Regions from separate parts of the Homo sapiens genome. Here region 2 is linked to region 1. The links come from fine-mapping of genetic effects on gene expression. A gene starts in region 1. The other region holds a variant in brackets. All regions are shown on one strand. Distances are between the middles of the regions. Region 1 holds the start of CCDC86 (coiled-coil domain containing 86). Region 2 overlaps LOC105369322 (a long non-coding RNA gene).

Region 1 (2,900 bases):
TCTCCTTGACTCAGGAACATGAGGAAGATGAGGACACTCTGATCCCTGATATTCTTGGACAATTTCCCAGGCCCTCTCACAAGCCCGCAGCTGGAGAAACAATGGTTTCTAAAAGAAACCACTGGAATGTCAGACGGGGCCCTGGGACCTTTAATGGCCAACCCCAGGCAGTTCCAAGAATTACACAACTGGGCCACTTCCAAGATGTTCTTCCTAAGAAGCATGCTGTAAGTAAATCAAAGCCCCACTCCTAGGTCTCACACGAAAGTCTCCACAGCCCCACATTCCCCAACCCCACATCCCGAGAGTCTTCTCTAGGCCTTGGGAGGTCCAGAAGTCAACACCTGCTCACTGGTGAGGTCCCAAAGTGCTTAGTAAGCAAAGTACATTTACAGGTGAATAGCAAGGGAAGGGAGGGGAGGCGAAGCAGGTTCACACACGAGCAAAAACCACTGTCTGGGCTGAAAGGAAGATCGGAGATGATCCAACCCGTTTCTAGAACTGGGGTAGAAGAAGAGGGACGTGGGAGGATATGCAGCTGGTCGAGGGCCCAGGTGAGCCACAGGACAAAGGTGGTGCATCTTATTGGTACCTCAACTTCCCTCACAAACGTTGAAAACGCTGAAAAGGGAGGGAGAGCTATGGATTATATACGGAAGCACAGGACGGAAGAATCAAGAGTGTGAACAATTAACACAGAAAAGACCGATCTTCCACCTCCAGGACCCCCAGGTAGCAGTCCCTCAGGTAGGTGGGAGGAGGACTCTGACAGGATCATTTGGGATGCACGAAGCTAGTGCAAAATGACCCCTATTACAAATGAGAAAACAGGCCCAAGGAGGGCAGGACTCTGCCCAACTGCACCGGAGTTGGCTGCAAAACATCCACTGGGCCTTGCCTATGGGCTCCTCGGACCTTTTTTCGACTCTGTTCTCTCCCTGAAATGGGTCCTCCCACTTTCCCTTTTCTACTTGCTCGCTCTTCTTTCCCCAGGAAACTTTGCAAGAAAGGCAAAAGCGAATCCCAGGAAAAAGACTGGCTCATCAATCACATGTTGACTGCGCTCGCGCGAATTGCGCATGCGCATGCTGAGCCCCACTCTCCCCAACCCCGGTCCCGCCTCTCCACCCCTCACCAACATGGCCGCCTCAGCAACAGCCCCCCTCCTGTGCGTCACGGACGCGGCGACTCCTGACGTCATAGGAAGGCGCCGGTTTCGGCGGGGGCTGCACGTGCGCAGGGGTGTGGAAACTTACCGGCTGAGCCATGGATACACCGTTAAGGCGCAGCCGACGGCTGGGAGGCCTAAGGCCCGAATCCCCCGAGAGCCTCACCTCAGTTTCGCGGACGAGACGGGCCCTTGTGGAGTTCGAGTCGAACCCAGAAGAAACGAGGGAGCCCGGGTCTCCTCCGAGTGTGCAGCGGGCTGGCCTGGGGTCCCCCGAAAGGCCGCCGAAGACAAGCCCAGGATCACCCCGTCTGCAGCAGGGTGCAGGCTTGGAGTCACCCCAAGGGCAGCCAGAGCCAGGCGCAGCGTCCCCCCAGCGTCAGCAAGACCTACACCTGGAGTCGCCTCAAAGACAGCCAGAGTACAGTCCTGAATCCCCACGATGTCAGCCGAAGCCAAGTGAGGAGGCACCAAAGTGTTCTCAGGACCAGGGAGTACTGGCCTCGGAGTTGGCCCAGAATAAGGAGGAGCTGACCCCGGGGGCCCCCCAGCATCAGCTACCGCCGGTCCCAGGATCACCAGAGCCTTACCCCGGTCAGCAAGCTCCCGGTCCGGAGCCCTCTCAGCCACTACTGGAGCTGACACCCAGGGCACCTGGCTCCCCCCGGGGTCAGCATGAGCCGAGCAAGCCACCTCCAGCTGGGGAGACGGTGACAGGCGGCTTCGGGGCAAAGAAGCGAAAAGGTTCTTCATCCCAGGCCCCAGCGTCCAAGAAGTTGAATAAAGAGGAGCTTCCTGTAATCCCGAAGGGGAAGCCCAAATCGGGGCGAGTGTGGAAGGACCGCTCCAAGAAAAGGTGAAGTGGGGGACAGCATGGACAGGGGTGGCGTTCTCTATGGTGTTGGGACCCCGCCTTTGCCCTGCTGCAGCCTGGAGAATAGCCCCAGGGTTAGAGAGAGCTCACGTTAGTGGGGATGTTAGCAAACAGGTAATTACAATCAGAATGTGGTAAAATGCCCTGGGATCCCGGAGAGGGTGGGGCCAGGCCCTCAAAGATCAATTTCTCTGATGCCTTTCCTCCTCAGGGTCCCTATGGGCCTCTCCTGTAGCACCTCAGGTCTGTATTCGTTCAACAGACATTTACCGTTGTCTGCCCTCTCTAGTGAGAGAAGCAGAAGCAAGTAAACCAGCCATTACTTGATCAAAGCAGTGAGGTCTTCATCCAATATAGTCTATTACAGTTATTTGCCTTTAAGATAAAAAGTATTACTGAGCACTGATTATATAAGGATTTACCAGTCAACAGCCTTAATAAGGATTTACCAGTCAACAGCCTTTCAAACATGGAACAGCATGTGTCATCACGCTTAATCTGCACGTCAGCCCTGTGAAGCAGGCGGTGTTATTATTCCTGTTTTTTGTGTGAGGAAACCAAGGCTAAATGAGTGGTAGGCACAGGACCTGAGCACAGATCTGATTCCGAAGCCTGTGTGCAAAAAACCCCTTTACCCAATCCCTGTAGATCCACCTTGAATTGGATTGCGACCTTCTTAAGGGGCAGGCACGAGATCTTTCTTGTCTTTCTGTGCCAAGGGCATAGTAAATGCCCAATGAATGCTTATTTAATGAAGGAACGAAGTAGCTCATCTGAAGAAGGAAGAGTGTAGGCTGCCATGAAGGAGAGGTGTGGGATTCAGTTCCAATTCGAGCTAATGGGAACCACAGGGGAGAG
Region 2 (2,900 bases), 21 kb before region 1:
CACAATTCATGTTTTACCAATCACTCCTCCTGGTGACGTAGCTTCACTTTTCAGATGGGAAAACTGAGACCCAGGAAATGGGGATCTGCCTGTGAATGTTCTTCCTCATCCTGGGACCCCAGTTGTGTGTGCTGCAGGTGTCTGAAATGTCAAAAGCAAGACCCAGGCTCCAGCTCCCTCCAGGAGACATGAGGCAGCCCAGCCCACAGCCCACCTGCCTTCTGAAGCCAGCTGACAGGGCAGCAGCAATTAGTGAGGCTCCCTCCTTCTGAAAACTCAGGGGTGCCATGGCAGAGCCCAGAGGAGCCATCCTGGTAGGCTGAGACCCTGGGCAATGCCCACCCCAGCAGAGAGAAGCTCTTTTTCCGGGGACAGCCAACCATCTTGGGAGTAAGTGGATCACCCAGTCTCCACAGACCTGTGCAGCCACTGCCAATCCCAACAGTGATGCAGTCAGTAGAATTTATGGGGCCAAGGGTACATACCAGTGGAGGGACTGTGGAGCAGCAGGGAGGCAAGACAGAGCTGCTGGGGTTTTCCTTCCTGGCCTCCAGCCCTGAAAATTAGCAGCAAAGGGCTGGGGCTGCCACTGCCCTGGAAAGCACTGCTTGAATCCAGGATACGAGAGCAAACCTATGTCCCCCTTGCCAGGCCCCAGGAGCTGGGTACCATCGCTCTAAGGCAACTCTGGGGTGAACCGGGAGCTTTCCTTTTCTGATGCCGCACCCCTGCATCAAGGCTCTCCTCATTGTAGCTGATTGGGTCTTGGTCAGTGGTGAGACCAGCACGTGTGGGCAGAAGTCTGTGCCTGTCTCCCGCTGATGTCAATGTGGGCAGCTGAGCAGAGAGTATGGGCCCAGCCAGGCACTGGAATCCTAGCTCCTCCGTTCTCTGCATGTGTGGCTCTGGGTCCCAGTTTTGAAAATGAGGTCTCTTTTACCTTGCCGTTGAGCACGAAACGATGGGAGGAGCGGAGCCTGCTGGGAGAAGCTACTCCTCTTGGGTGACAGAGAGGTGGAGTGTTGAGGGTGAGGTCAAAGTGCTGCTCTCAGGTCAGAGAAGCCTATTTGAGACAAATGATCGCAAACTTCTGGGCTTCAGCCTAGGCTGAGTCAACCCTGTGCCCTGGAAGGACAGGCTTGCATGTGCGGTATGGAGGCTTAGGGAACATGGGCAGAGGCAGGCTCCGATCCCACTCTGAGACCCCAGCTTCGTCCCTAGAATGCCATGAGCAGGGTGCTGCTCCATTCATGGGTGTGGTGAGAGCTAAATGACTTGGTGCACAGAGCAAGCTCGGTGCACTCAGGGCCAGCACCTTGGAGGTAACCAATGTGTTGGGCTTGATGCCTGAGATGGCCCTCACCCAAGCTTTCTAGGGTTCTGCAATCCTGCGGTGCCCCTGGGACGAAGAGGCCTGGTTCTGCGCCTGCCCTCACTGGCTGGGGAAGTTGGCAAGGTTCTTATTCTCTCCAGGCCTCTGTTTTCTTGGCTGCCAAGGAAGGAGGTGGATGGGGAGTTTGTCTAAGATCCTTTTCGGCAGAGACATGTGCACAGAGACCTGCCCAGCCACTCAAGTCCTGGGAGACACAGCCCCAACCCCGAAAGCCCAAGGCTTTAGCTCTGCGCCCTCCCCCCTCCACCCCCAGGCCCTGCAGATCATTATCAGCTGCTGGCAACTGGTGGCTGGCAGGT[T/G]GGGGGGCGGGCCGCATCCTGGCTGCCTCCTCGAGCTCCACCGAGTTCCCCACCACTTACTTGTACCCGCTGGCAGGAGGAGTGCTCCTGAGGACCCTGGAGATCCCACTTGGTGGTGGCCCAGAGACAGAGAGGACTGCAAAGACCAGGACTGCAGATCCTCCCTGCACCCTTGGGAGGGAGTTTGAGTCTGTGAAGTGGGAGTGAAGCTGCAGGGGGTGGAACTGTTCTGAGCTCGAGGGGAAGTTCCAGGCCCACCCCACATGGGATTGGATGGCCCAGGGGAGGCACTGGGCTGTTGAGGCGGCCAGCTAAAGAGCTGAAGCTGGTTCACAGCGTGTGGTGGGGGGAGTCGTGGCAAAGGGCCTCTGCCCCAATATATGCAGCCGAGGAAGGAGAAAGGTGGTGTCCCTGGGGACTTACCCCGAGGGTAACACTCAAGTCAAGGCGCTCAGCCACTACAATGAAACAAAAGCCCCTGGGACTTGATTTCTAGATCCAGATCTATCACTTAGCAGCCCTGTGACTTAGGCAGGTTGCCTCCTTCTCTCAGTCTTAGTTTCTCCATCTTCAAAATGAGAGACTAGTCCCTCCCACCTCCAAGCATGGGCCAGAGACCAGCATCTTTGGCATCACCTGGGAGCTTGTTAGAAATGCAGAGTCTCAGGCCAGCTCCAGTGGCTCAAGCCTGCAATCCCAGAGCTTTGGGAGGCTGAGGGGAGGATCTCTTGAGGCAAGGAGTTTGAGAACACCTGAGCAACATAGCACGACCTTGTCTCTACTAAAAATAAAAAATGTTGATATGCAACAAGATATAAAAAAGGAAAAAAAAATTAAAAAGGAAAACTAGCTGGGTATGGTGGTACATACCTGTAGTCCCAGCTACTCAGGAGGCTGAGGCAGGAGGTTCACTTGAGCCCAGGAGTTGGAGGCTGCAGTGAGCTATGATGGTGCCACTGCATTCCAGCCTGGGCCAGAGAGCAAGACCCTGTCTCTTAAAAAAAAAAATGCAGGCCAGGCATGGTGACTCACGCCTGTAATCCCAGCACTTTGGCAGGCCGAGGCGGGCAGGATCACGAGGTCAAGAGATCAAGACCATCCTGGCCAACATGGAGAAACTCCATCTCTACTAAAAATATAAAAATTAGCTGGGCATGGTGACACAGACCTGTAGTCTCAGCTACTTAGGAGGCTGAGGCAGGAGAATC

What was found. PIP is the estimated chance that this variant, and not a neighbour inherited with it, causes the effect. A credible set is the group of variants that fine-mapping cannot tell apart.
Region 2: its variant is the best candidate, but not a certain one, in a credible set for the expression of CCDC86 in whole blood (INTERVAL, PIP 0.62).

What each region holds. Positions count from the first base shown.
Region 1 is chr11:60,840,859-60,843,758 of GRCh38, forward strand. It overlaps CCDC86 (coiled-coil domain containing 86), which reads left to right and starts at 1,255. Exons shown (of 4, transcript NM_024098.4): 1 at 1,255-2,024. The coding sequence starts at 1,267. It overlaps CCDC86-AS1 (CCDC86 antisense RNA 1), which reads right to left. Exons shown (of 2, transcript NR_182293.1): 2 at 948-1,122. RefSeq lists enhancers at 345-1,544, 1,451-1,680.
Region 2 is chr11:60,820,334-60,823,233 of GRCh38, forward strand. All of the region lies in intron 2 of LOC105369322 (a long non-coding RNA gene), which reads right to left. Among named protein-coding and RNA genes, the nearest start is that of CCDC86, 20 kb to the right of the region's middle. The variant T/G (reference allele first, on the strand shown) is at 1,693.